2 separate regions of the Homo sapiens genome follow, and region 2 is linked to region 1. A link means that fine-mapping ties the variant in region 1 to the expression of a gene that starts in the linked region. Tissue or cell type: blood mononuclear cells. Region 1 holds a variant in brackets; the other region holds the start of a gene. All regions are shown on one strand. Distances are from middle to middle.

The links. PIP is the estimated chance that this variant, and not a neighbour inherited with it, causes the effect.
Region 2: it holds the start of BRD7, and the variant in region 1 is fine-mapped to the expression of BRD7 in blood mononuclear cells (TOPMed, PIP 0.91).

Annotation. Positions count from the first base shown.
Region 1 is chr16:50,310,146-50,315,545 of GRCh38, reverse strand. ADCY7 (adenylate cyclase 7) reads right to left here. Exons shown (of 26, transcript NM_001114.5): 19 at 4,666-4,859; 20 at 3,760-3,853; 21 at 3,355-3,510; 22 at 2,510-2,656; 23 at 1,484-1,588; 24 at 1,140-1,254; 25 at 408-532; 26 at 1-187. The coding sequence ends at 41. Among named protein-coding and RNA genes, the nearest start is that of MIR6771, 20 kb to the right of the region's middle. RefSeq lists an enhancer at 915-2,114. The variant T/G (reference allele first, on the strand shown) is at 2,108.
Region 2 is chr16:50,366,391-50,371,390 of GRCh38, reverse strand. It overlaps BRD7 (bromodomain containing 7), which reads left to right and starts at 2,403. Exons shown (of 17, transcript NM_013263.5): 1 at 2,403-2,665; 2 at 3,093-3,301. The coding sequence starts at 2,617. RefSeq lists silencers at 2,225-2,474, 2,505-3,014.

The DNA of each region.
Region 1 (5,400 bases):
AGACTGGCTTCCCGGCCTTTTCGGAATCCAGCAGGAGCCCTCAGTTCAGCCCCAGCCCCTGAAACTTGGCAGTGTCCGTACAGACAAAGTAAGTCCTCAGCTCGCCTTTGCCTTTGACGTTGATCAGGCCACGGCATTCACAAGAGTACCCGAGGCCCTGGAGGATGGTGCAGGTCTCCTCGGTAACCTGAAAAGGAAGAGAGACCTGTTGTCTTCAGAGGCGGGAAGAACACCTGTCATGGTAGGGACAGATAGAGACTGCCCAGGCATGCAGTCTGCCTTCCCTGGAGAGTGTGATAGCTAGAACCATGGCTGCTGGGTGAGACAGCAGCTCTTAAGTCCAAGTCCCCTCACCTCTGGGGAAGATCTTTTCCCCTTAGTCAACTGCTTCCCCAATAGGTCTTTACCTGGATTTTCCCAAGTTCTCCAGTGCTTTCCATTCGGCTGGCCACATTGACAGTGTTTCCCCAGATGTCATACTGAGGTTTTCGGGCCCCAATCACTCCAGCAATCACAGGCCCATGGTTTATGCCTGAAGATGATGTTTACAGTTACCCAAGCGTGCAGGCAAAGCCTCAAGCTTCTGCCCTTAGAGGAGGCCAGAGAATCCATACCCCAGCACAGGATGCGGGGACAAAACAACTAGAGTGAAGGCTGGGTTGCTTCCCAGAGTCACTGCGTTGCAGTCGGGCTTGGGGTATGAGGAGGGCATTCCCCGGCCAGCTCTTTTTCAGACTCAGAAGTCTGGGTTTGATGTTAACACTTGTATCTGCTAATCTCTCTTTTAACAAAGAATACTTTGTTAAAAGTATTAACAAAGGCCTGGCTTTGAGCGCAGGCCCGCAACTATTTAGGTTTAGTAACTTTGCTTCCTTCTCTATATTTTAAGGTCACCTGTTTACAGACAATAATTTTGGTTCTCCATTTTCTGTAGTTACGTATTATTAAAACTCTCAATGGTAACTATATGCTAACTATATGCAAAACATCAGAATAATTGTCCAACTGCTGAGCTTGTCAGATCAGAGGGATTTCTAAAACCTTTCATAATAGATGGCGAGGTGCAGCTGTGCCACACAGACTGGGTGGACTGGCCTAGAGGCAGGGGCTCCCCACCCCGCTCCATCACCCGGGCTCACCGACGCGGAGGCGGAAGGAGTTGAAGGAGTGCCTGTTGATGCCGTCCAGCTTACTCATCAGGGCGATGCTGAACTCCACCATGACACCAATGTGGGCATGCTGCCGCTCCAGCTCCTGCGGGACAGGCTGTGGGTCAGATCCTTGCATCTCCAGAGCCCCCAGACCTAGTGGGCCCTGGCGCGCCACTCTTGTTGAGGATCCCCACCACTAAAATCCTGGCTGAGCCCTACAAGTACCTGTGCCCCTCCCCCAGGACGAGATAAGGGCACACCCTTTAAGTAAGGTGACAGGTCACCTTTAAGTGAGGACAGTCAGCTGAATTTCACCTCTTGGGCTTGAGTACCTGGTTCTCGTGCCCTGAGGCGACGCTGAGCCCTGCAGCTGCCATGTACGTGCTGCCGATGGTCTTGATCTTCTCCACGCCGCTGAACTTGGGCTTCAGTAGGAGCTGCAGGCAAGAAGGAAGCGGTGAAGCAGCCGCCACTCCATAGCCGCAGCCAGGCTGCCCCTGCTTCTCAGGAAGGGTGTGGGGTTCCCTCCACCCATCGCCGCCTCTCGCACACACGTCTCATGGCTGCCCTGCCAGCTGAGCGCATGACTAAGCATGGTGAGGACATGGCCCTTGGCGGCTCCTGCTCTTCCTGTTGTCTCCGTCCCCACACTGTCTCCCTCTTCCCTTCCATCTGTGTCTGCACAGAGCAAACACAGCATTATCTACACAGGAATGTAGATTCTTTGTCTCCAGCAAAGAATTCAACCCAAACTGATTTCCTCTGTTTGGCTTGGTTGATAGCGTGGGCTTAGTTGGAAATGAAGCTAAGGGGCCTGAGTCTAATCTTAGCAAGCTGCCCATCACAGAGAAGATGCCAACGAATTATTTGCTGCATAAAACAGAATGAAAAAGAAATGTGTACCTTTATATTCTGTGTAATGTATGTTCCCCCCAGGCGGGCCACGTCGTTTTTTT[T/G]TTGTTGTTGTTGTTGTTGTTTGAGACAGAGTTGTGTACTGTTGCCCAGGCTGTAGTGCAGTGGCGTGATCCCAGCTCACTGCAACCGCCTCCCAGGTTCAAGCGATTCTCCTGCCTCAGCCTCCCAAGTAGCTGGGATTACAGGTGTGCGCCCCAAGCCCAGCTTGTAATTTTTTGTATTTTCAGTAGAGACAGGGTTTCGCCATGTTGGCCAGGCTGGTCTCGAACTCCTAGCCTCAAGTGATCCACCCACCTTGACCTCCCAAAGTGCTGGGATTATAGACCACCTTGCCCAGCTCTGTGTCACATTTTTAAATTGGGTTTTAGGATGGCAGGTGCCACCGCCCTTCCCTCTCCAGCATGGGTGGGGGCTGCTGCGCAAGGCTGGGCTAGAGGCTGTACCTCGTCGAAGTCGGCAATGATCTCATTGAGCAGGCGTAGGCACTCCAGCCCTTCTTTGTTGACATCGCACTCTGTGTAGAACACTTTGAAGTCCGGCACGGAGGCAAACATGACACAGACGCAGTCATAGGACTGATGGTACCAGTCCTGGATGGGAAGAAACCGGACCTTACACCACTTCACCTCTTGAGGGGACAGGAAGAGTGGCAAGGCCTCAGGAGCAGATGGCACTGCTGAACTGCCCAGCCCAGCTTTCGGGGAGTGGGGAGGGGGGCGGGCTGCATGAGTTTCATCTGGTGGCTGTTACCGGGTGATTAAGAATTGGGTGGCCAGGGAGGGTCAGGCTCAGGTTGGTTTTTGCTCACAGAAGCACCATGGGTGTTTCCATGTACACATGGGGTGAGAACCTCTGCAGTAGTGGAGGGTAACGGGAGGTCTTCATTCTCACTGGGCCTCCGTTTCCTATCTAGAAAACTTGCTACACATAACTAGTAGAAGTACAGACATTTTCATCAACACAGAATGTCCAGATCACAAACCCCTGAACACACATTTCATCCTCGCCACAAGCCTGTGGGGAAGGGCTGTCAGCCCATTTTACAGAGGTGAAGACCAAGGCCTGGGAAAGCAAGGTGCCTTGTTCACGACCACACTTGAGCCCAGGTCCCTGACCCCAGGCCCATGCTCTCACAGCTGATGCCATACATTGTCGCCTGGGCATCCCGGTGAGGCCAGGACCTGAGGAAGCCAAGCTCAGCATGCACTCCAGCTCCACACCTTCACCCTACGGACTGCGCCTGGACCGTCCGCCTCCCTGCCCCCGCCCCAGCCCCTTCTCAGCACACCTCGTTTAACTTGTCACCGATAAAGTGGGCAGCCACGTGGGCTGGCAGGACGTTCTCCAGAAGAAGGCGGTTCACGTTCTCCATGGTCTCAAACTCCTCGTGCTCCTTCTTGAACTTCTTCTTCCATAGGCAGTCCAAGCGGCAGTAATAGTCAATCTGCAAACGGCAGCAACATAAGCGCCCCGTCCACAGGCAAGTGGGAGCCGTGCTGCTGTGCATCTCCTAGCCAGGTCTGTCTGTCCCTGGCGTCCTTGGAGCCTCTGGCCAGGGGACCAGTGCTTTCCTGGCAGGACTCTAGTCTTTTCTGCTACTCCACCTGAGCCCACCCCACCCCACCCCATCTCCAGATGGAGGTGAGGAAAAGTGGGCAGAGCTTGGGGGGGGGGGGGGGGCCAGCCTCCTTACCTGTCTGGAGAGTGTAAGCAGGGTGATGTAGAACAGGACCAGGTAGAAATTGGTCATGGTCTTCAGGTCCTTCCAGGAACAGCTAGGGGTGCCACTGAATGCGAAGGGAGGCCCAAGTCACTCCCAGCACTCACCACTCCAACCCACTGAGTCATGCTCTCCAGGTGCCACGCACACCCAGGGGAAAGGGGAAAATTGATTCTAATGGGGTGGGTAGAAAACAAGACAACTTTGGGGTATTATAAAGGGGGGAGGGGAGAGGTGGGCAGGGAGATGGGGGAGCCCTTGTGGGGAAGACCTCTGATCTCACCCCTGAATGACCAGAATCAGCTGTGATGAGGGCCTGAAGGGAGCCCAGAACTGGTGAGCCAGGGTCAGTGGCAGGCGGGGTGGGGTGGATGGGTGGCATAAGGATTTTGCAGGTGCGGGGCAGACCCACAGGAGCAGGTTCTGTTCTGGGTCCCAGGCTTCCAGCTTTTTTGTTTAGGGGGGCCAGGTCCGCTCCTTAATCCACTTGGGACCCAGAACCCCTAGAACCACACACCCCAGCCCTGCCAGCCTCAGGTATCACCACCTGTCCAGGAAGAGATGGAAGCAACTGCTCCTTCCAGAACTCGAGACCCAGGATGTGGCCTTGAGAGGCACAGAGCTAGAGCTGCAGCCTCCTTCCCTCCCCACCACTAGACTGGCCTGGAAACAGGATGACCCGGTGGCCTCTGTCAGACTAGGGACTTCCTAAAGAACCTGCCAGTGAATTCCTCGGCTCTGAGCGCTGGACACCATCTGCCAGCCCCGCCCTGCAAGGTGCCCACTCCCCATGAACACAGAAGCCCCTTGGTGCGAGCAGGCAGGCACCAGATGAACAGGCCACCATGGGGATGGGGACGGGGACGGGCGGGACCCCACCTGGTGGTGCCGTTGGGCTTGGTGAGGTTGCCCAGGCCTTGGCCGCAGCAGTCCCACTGCCAGCATGGGGAGAGGTTGAAGAGCACCAGGTAGGCCACCAGGGCCACTGTCAGCAGCACAACCTTTGGCTCCAGGCTCATCCTCAGGAAGACCGAGCAGGCGATGAAGCCCAGGACACAGCTGCAGGTGTAGTACTGAGGGGGCAGGGTGTCACTCAGGACAGGGCCACCCCACCACGTACTCTCGCCTCCAGCCCAGCACATACCACAGAGCCCCACTCCCTGCACCTCAGCATCACGCTCTTGCCTTACCACCTCCCTTCTCAACAAAAAACAATGAGACCTAAGAGTGTCCAGTGTTGTTTTCACTGTAGTTTTATTTCTTATGAAGTGAGCTCATTTAAACGGGAAAAAACAGTATGCAGGTGCTGTGGATACAACAGACCACAGTCAAGGTCAAGGCCGGAGCGTGCATGCATCCAAGCTGCCTCCCTGAGTTTTTGTGAGCTTACCCTCCCAAAGGACCTCTGCCCTGCTCAAGATTGTGCTGTGGCTCCCCAGCCCCCAGAATAAAGACCACGCTCTTCACACCCCGGCATTCCTGCACCTCCCAGTCTGGATCAAGCCTGCCCCCGGCTCCATCTCCCAGTTCTCCCCACTCCCTCTCCAGGAGACAACCCACCCAAAACCCCACTGCTCCCAACACACGCCTCGGCTTTTTCCCATGCTGTCCCTT
Region 2 (5,000 bases), 56 kb before region 1:
CTTAACTGGGGCCTCTGCTTCTGGGACTCTCACAGGGCTGTGATCAGGATGTCAGCCAGGGCTGAGGTCTCATCTGAATGTTCCACTGAGGAAGGATCCACTTTGAAGCTCACACAGTTGCTGGCAGGATTCAATCCTTCAAGGCTGTTGGACTGATAGCCTCAGTTGTAGCCGGATGTCAACTGGGGCCCAGCCTCAGGTCTTTGTCACATGGGCTTCTCCAGCATGGCAGCTTACTTCATCAAAACATGCAAGCCAAGAAGGCAAGAGAGACGGTCAGCAAGTAAGACTGAAGTCTTATGTATCCTCAACACAGGAGTGACGTCCATCATCTTTGCCATATTCTATTGCTCTGAAGCCAGTCTCCAGGCCATTCTACACTCACTGGGAGGTCATGAATGGCAGCAGGCAGAAATCTCTCAGGGGAGTCTGCCCGAACCAGGACCGTGCAGCTCAACTAGCATTTTCTGGTGCCTTCTATGTGCCAGGCATGGTATTAGTGCTGAGAATTTAAAACTAGATGAATTTGGGCTTCCACTTCCAGGAACATTTTTCTGGGAGGTGTTTTCTGCTACGTACTCTTATTCACTTTCCATTGATGTGACCACTTTGTGACCTATGTAGAATCACTCTTGAGAGGGTAGGGAAATTACTAACTTGATAGTATGGATGAGTTCACCAGACCTTTTTCCTCTGAGGGGCATTTGGACAGTAGTAGTCACTGTGCTAGGCACTGTAAGTACCAAGGAGGTACCCAGGGTAATGAGGAGCAGACAGGTAAACCCACAGGTTGAGCCTGGAGCAAGGCAATGCCACAATAGAGGCCAGACCCACAGTGGGAGTTGGCATAGTGGTTCTTAAAGCAAAATAAGTTACAGACAGTGGATGAAAAGCTGAAACCAAGCTTTGCCCTATGCTTAGGGGGCCTAGGGGGCCTAGCTGGCTTGATTTCAGAGCAGCAGAAGGTCTCTTCCCCAACACAACCCCTCTTCCCACACCCTGATCTCTGCCTCACGGACACCAGAGAGGCTTGTTACAGGGAAATAATAGACACACACTTTTAGCTTTCATGAAAAAGCAACTCTCTTCATTAGAAGAACCTCATCTTCCCTGGCTAACCATAGAAGTCTGGCAGGAGCTGCCAATCACAGACTCCACTTCTCTTGGCCAAGGGGGTGAGGGGGTAGATTTGGCATCCAGGCCGAATCAATCTCCCATCCCCTGTCCCATAAAACATGTGACACAAGCCAAGCCAATCAGAGTCCTTCCCTGGGACTGTTTTCCAGGTGAAGCTGACAGGAAGAGATCTTTTTCCCAGTTGGTCAGGACACTATAAAGAAGAGGCCTCAGAAGCAGATGGTGGCCATGTTTCCAGCCATATAGGAAAGAAGGGGGGAGATGGAGACCGATATACAGAGAGACAAGAGAGAGAGCGAGCTGGCATGCCAGTCAACAGCATTACATCCTTGGTTCCTGTCTTCCCTCTGGCAAGCTTTATTCTTGCCCTTTCTAGACATGTAAACCAATAAATCCCTTTTTATTTACTTGAAATAATTCAAATTGGTTTCTATTAGTTGCCAACAATAGGGTCCTAAAATATAAGCCTATAATTTCACCACTGAAGTTCAAGGTAAAGCTACAAATCTTCCTGGGAGAGGTGATTCATGGGTCTAAATTGTTACTAAAGTATAAATGACTGATAACAGATCCTTTCTTAAGAGGAGACTATAATTACGAGCTTATCTGAAAACAGACAAAGCACCATACAGCTAGAAGTAAAGACAGTCAAAACGTCTGGTAACCTTCACCTATCAGCACATAAGTTTTTTTTAAGATTAGAATCTTCAGTCACCAATGTGCTGAGTTTGCTGGGTCTGGCACCCAGTATGGGGTTCAGTCAATATCGTAAAAGGGAAGAAACAGAAGCAAGGGAAAGTGGAAAGAAAGGAAGAGTGGGGGAAGGAGGAAGGGGAAAAAAAGAAAAGAAAAAAAGAGGGAAGGAGACGGGAAGAGGAGAAGGAAGGGTGATGAGGGAGGAAGAAAAGAGAGAAGGAAGGCTTGAAGGGAGGCAGTAAGGAGGGAAGAAAGAAAGGAAGGAAGGAGGAAGGAAGGGAAGAAGGGAAAGAGAAAGAAAGAGAGGGAGGGAGTAAAAAGAAGGGAGGGAAGTGGAGACGGAGGGAGAGACACACAGAGACAGAGACAAGACAGACAAATTGAGGGGAAAGGGAGGAAGGAAGAAAGACGAGAGTCTGAGCGGTGGATCCCGCCCCGGCCCCGCCCTCGGCCCCGCCCCCGGCCCGCGAGCTGCAGCACCACCTCCGGTCGCCAGGGGCCGCCACCCGCAGCCGCCGGCACCCTGTGCGCGCGGCGGGCCTTCTTTCCCGCCTCTGCGCCGGCCGCGCGCCCCCCCCGCCGCCGCTCTCGGGCTCCGGCCGGGTCTCGCGCGCCGTCTTCTCGAGAGGGGCATCGCGCCGCCCGGCGCGCGCCGCCCCCCTGCCTCGCGGCGCGGGGTCTCGCGGGCCCCGCTCCCGCCCTCCGCTCGCCTGGCCCGGACCGGAAGCGGCGCCGCACGGCCTGGGCCTGGCGCGGGGGGCGGGCACCGGGGCCCGGTCGGACATGGGCAAGAAGCACAAGAAGCACAAGTCGGACAAACACCTCTACGAGGGTGAGGAGGGGGCCGGGGTGCGGGCGGCGGGCCCTCGGCGGCTCTGCCGGGCTTCCGCTCTTTCCCAGTGGCTCCGGGGCGGCCCGGGGCCCTTCCTTCCCACGGCAGGCCCAGGCCGGCGAAGGGGGCGCGTCCTGCCGGAGGCCGCGCTGCCCCCCGTGCGGCCGCGGCATTCGAACCCGGGTCCCCCTGGTCCGGTGGGTCTCTGGTGGGGAGACGTGAGGCGGGCCCGGGAGGCCTGGGAGCGTTCGGGGCGGGCGGCGCCGCCGCACCCCCGGGCCGGGGTCCGTCATTCAACAGGTGCTTCGCGGAGCGCCCAAAGCCGCCTCGGGCTTGCTGCGCCTTGGCGCTCTGCATCCTTAGCACTCCCTGGAGAGCCCCGATTTTAATCGACGCGCTTTCCTTTCTTTTCTTTTCTTTTTTTAAGAGTATGTAGAGAAGCCCTTGAAGCTGGTCCTCAAAGTAGGAGGGAACGAAGTCACCGAACTCTCCACGGGCAGCTCGGGGCACGACTCCAGCCTCTTCGAAGACAAAAACGATCATGACAAACACAAGGACAGAAAGCGGAAAAAGAGAAAGAAAGGAGAGAAGCAGATTCCAGGGGAAGAAAAGGGGAGAAAACGGAGAAGAGTTAAGGTACAAGTGGTTACATTGCTTTGGCTTTGCGGACGGCACTGCCTCTTCCAGGTGCCAACCTCATTTTATTTTCTTTGTATCTGGGGAAAACAAACGCCTCTAAGATCTGGCTCGTTTGAGGAGGAGCAGGACAGAATAGAGACATGAATCATCTATGAGTTTCAGCAAGTCGTTTTTGGATTATACTCTTAGGCAATTGTACTCGCACATCAGGTGAGGAAGCAGCTAAGTCCAAATTTTGAGGAGCTGCTTCAAAGAATGGTTTTTCCATCTAGGCAGGGTAAAAAGTCATGCTCAAGAAAGCCTCAGTGTTCAAGGATTGTCAAAAATAGTCATTTCAGAAGCGAGTGGGATCTACTGGGGTTTAAAGTTTGTTCTGAAATAAATATTATAATGCCAAATCTGTAATGAGCAACTTTAAATCTTTTAAAACAGTGTTGTAGTGTGTTGAGAAAATTTGGTCAGAAACCTGTAATGGAGATTGATATTCTTAACCATTTGCATTTAACAGAAAAGAATGAGTAGCTACCATCTTGGTTTGAAAGCTGGGCAAAATAATAATTAATGGCTGGGCCCAGTAGCCCACACTTGTAATCCCAACACTTTGGAATGCCGAGGTGGGAGGATTGCTTGAGGCTGGAAGTTCGAGACCAGCCTGGGCAACATAGCAAGGCCCTGCCTCTGCAAAATAAACTACAAAAATTTCCAGAGCCTGGTGGTGTGCACCTGTGTCCCAGCTATTCAGGAGGCTGAGGTGGGAGGATCCCTTGAGCCCAGGAGTTTGAGGTACAGTGAGGTATGATCATACCACTGCACTCCAGCCTGGGCAATAATACGAGACTCTGTCTCTAATAATAATAACATTGTTATTACTGTTATTAACTTTCCAAATTTAACCTGCCACTGAACGACTTATTACATCAATTATTGTGAAGGTAAATTTTCATAGGTTAGTTATGTAATTTTTCTTATGTTTATATATACAAGAGGAGCTTTCTCTTCCATGTGATTGAACACATTGCTAAGTCACCAAGTCTTAGAGATCTTATTTTGGGGATTTCTTAAGTCTATTCCTTCCCTTTTGTCCCAGTTTTTATTACCTTTGGCTAGGTAGGAGTAATGTTTTGTTTTCTTCCTTAAATTATAAAACCCATATATGCATTTGATTTTTTAAAAGTAGTTCATGTGGTGCAAAAGTACACAAAATGGAAAAAGTTTTCCTCACCCCAATCCTTCACATAGACTCCCTCTTCAGAGGTAACCAGTTGTTTTTTTTAATTAATAGTAGTAAAGTAATTCGTGAAGATGATTTTTAAAAGTCAAGAGTACTACACAGCTTTTTGACACAAAGCAGGCTGCTGCTCCACTCTGGACACTTTTTAGGTATTTTTCCTTGCCTACTTATTTCTATTTCAAAATAAAGGTTTATATTGCTATTTACTGATTTAGCAGTTTATATCTTCTACTGACATCATGTTATGGAAGATGAGAATTCAGTTTCCCTTGCTCAAGGTATAGGTACATCACAATTATTGGTTAAATCAATATTAAAGTGATTGTAGACAAGTATAGTATGCAAATATAGATCTGATCTTAACTAGTTAGATCATTGCTTTCATTTGTTTGGTTATTGCTTAATAATTCTTCCCAAACTCTAAGATTTATGAAACTCATTTGAGTTCTTTACTTCCTTTTTTAT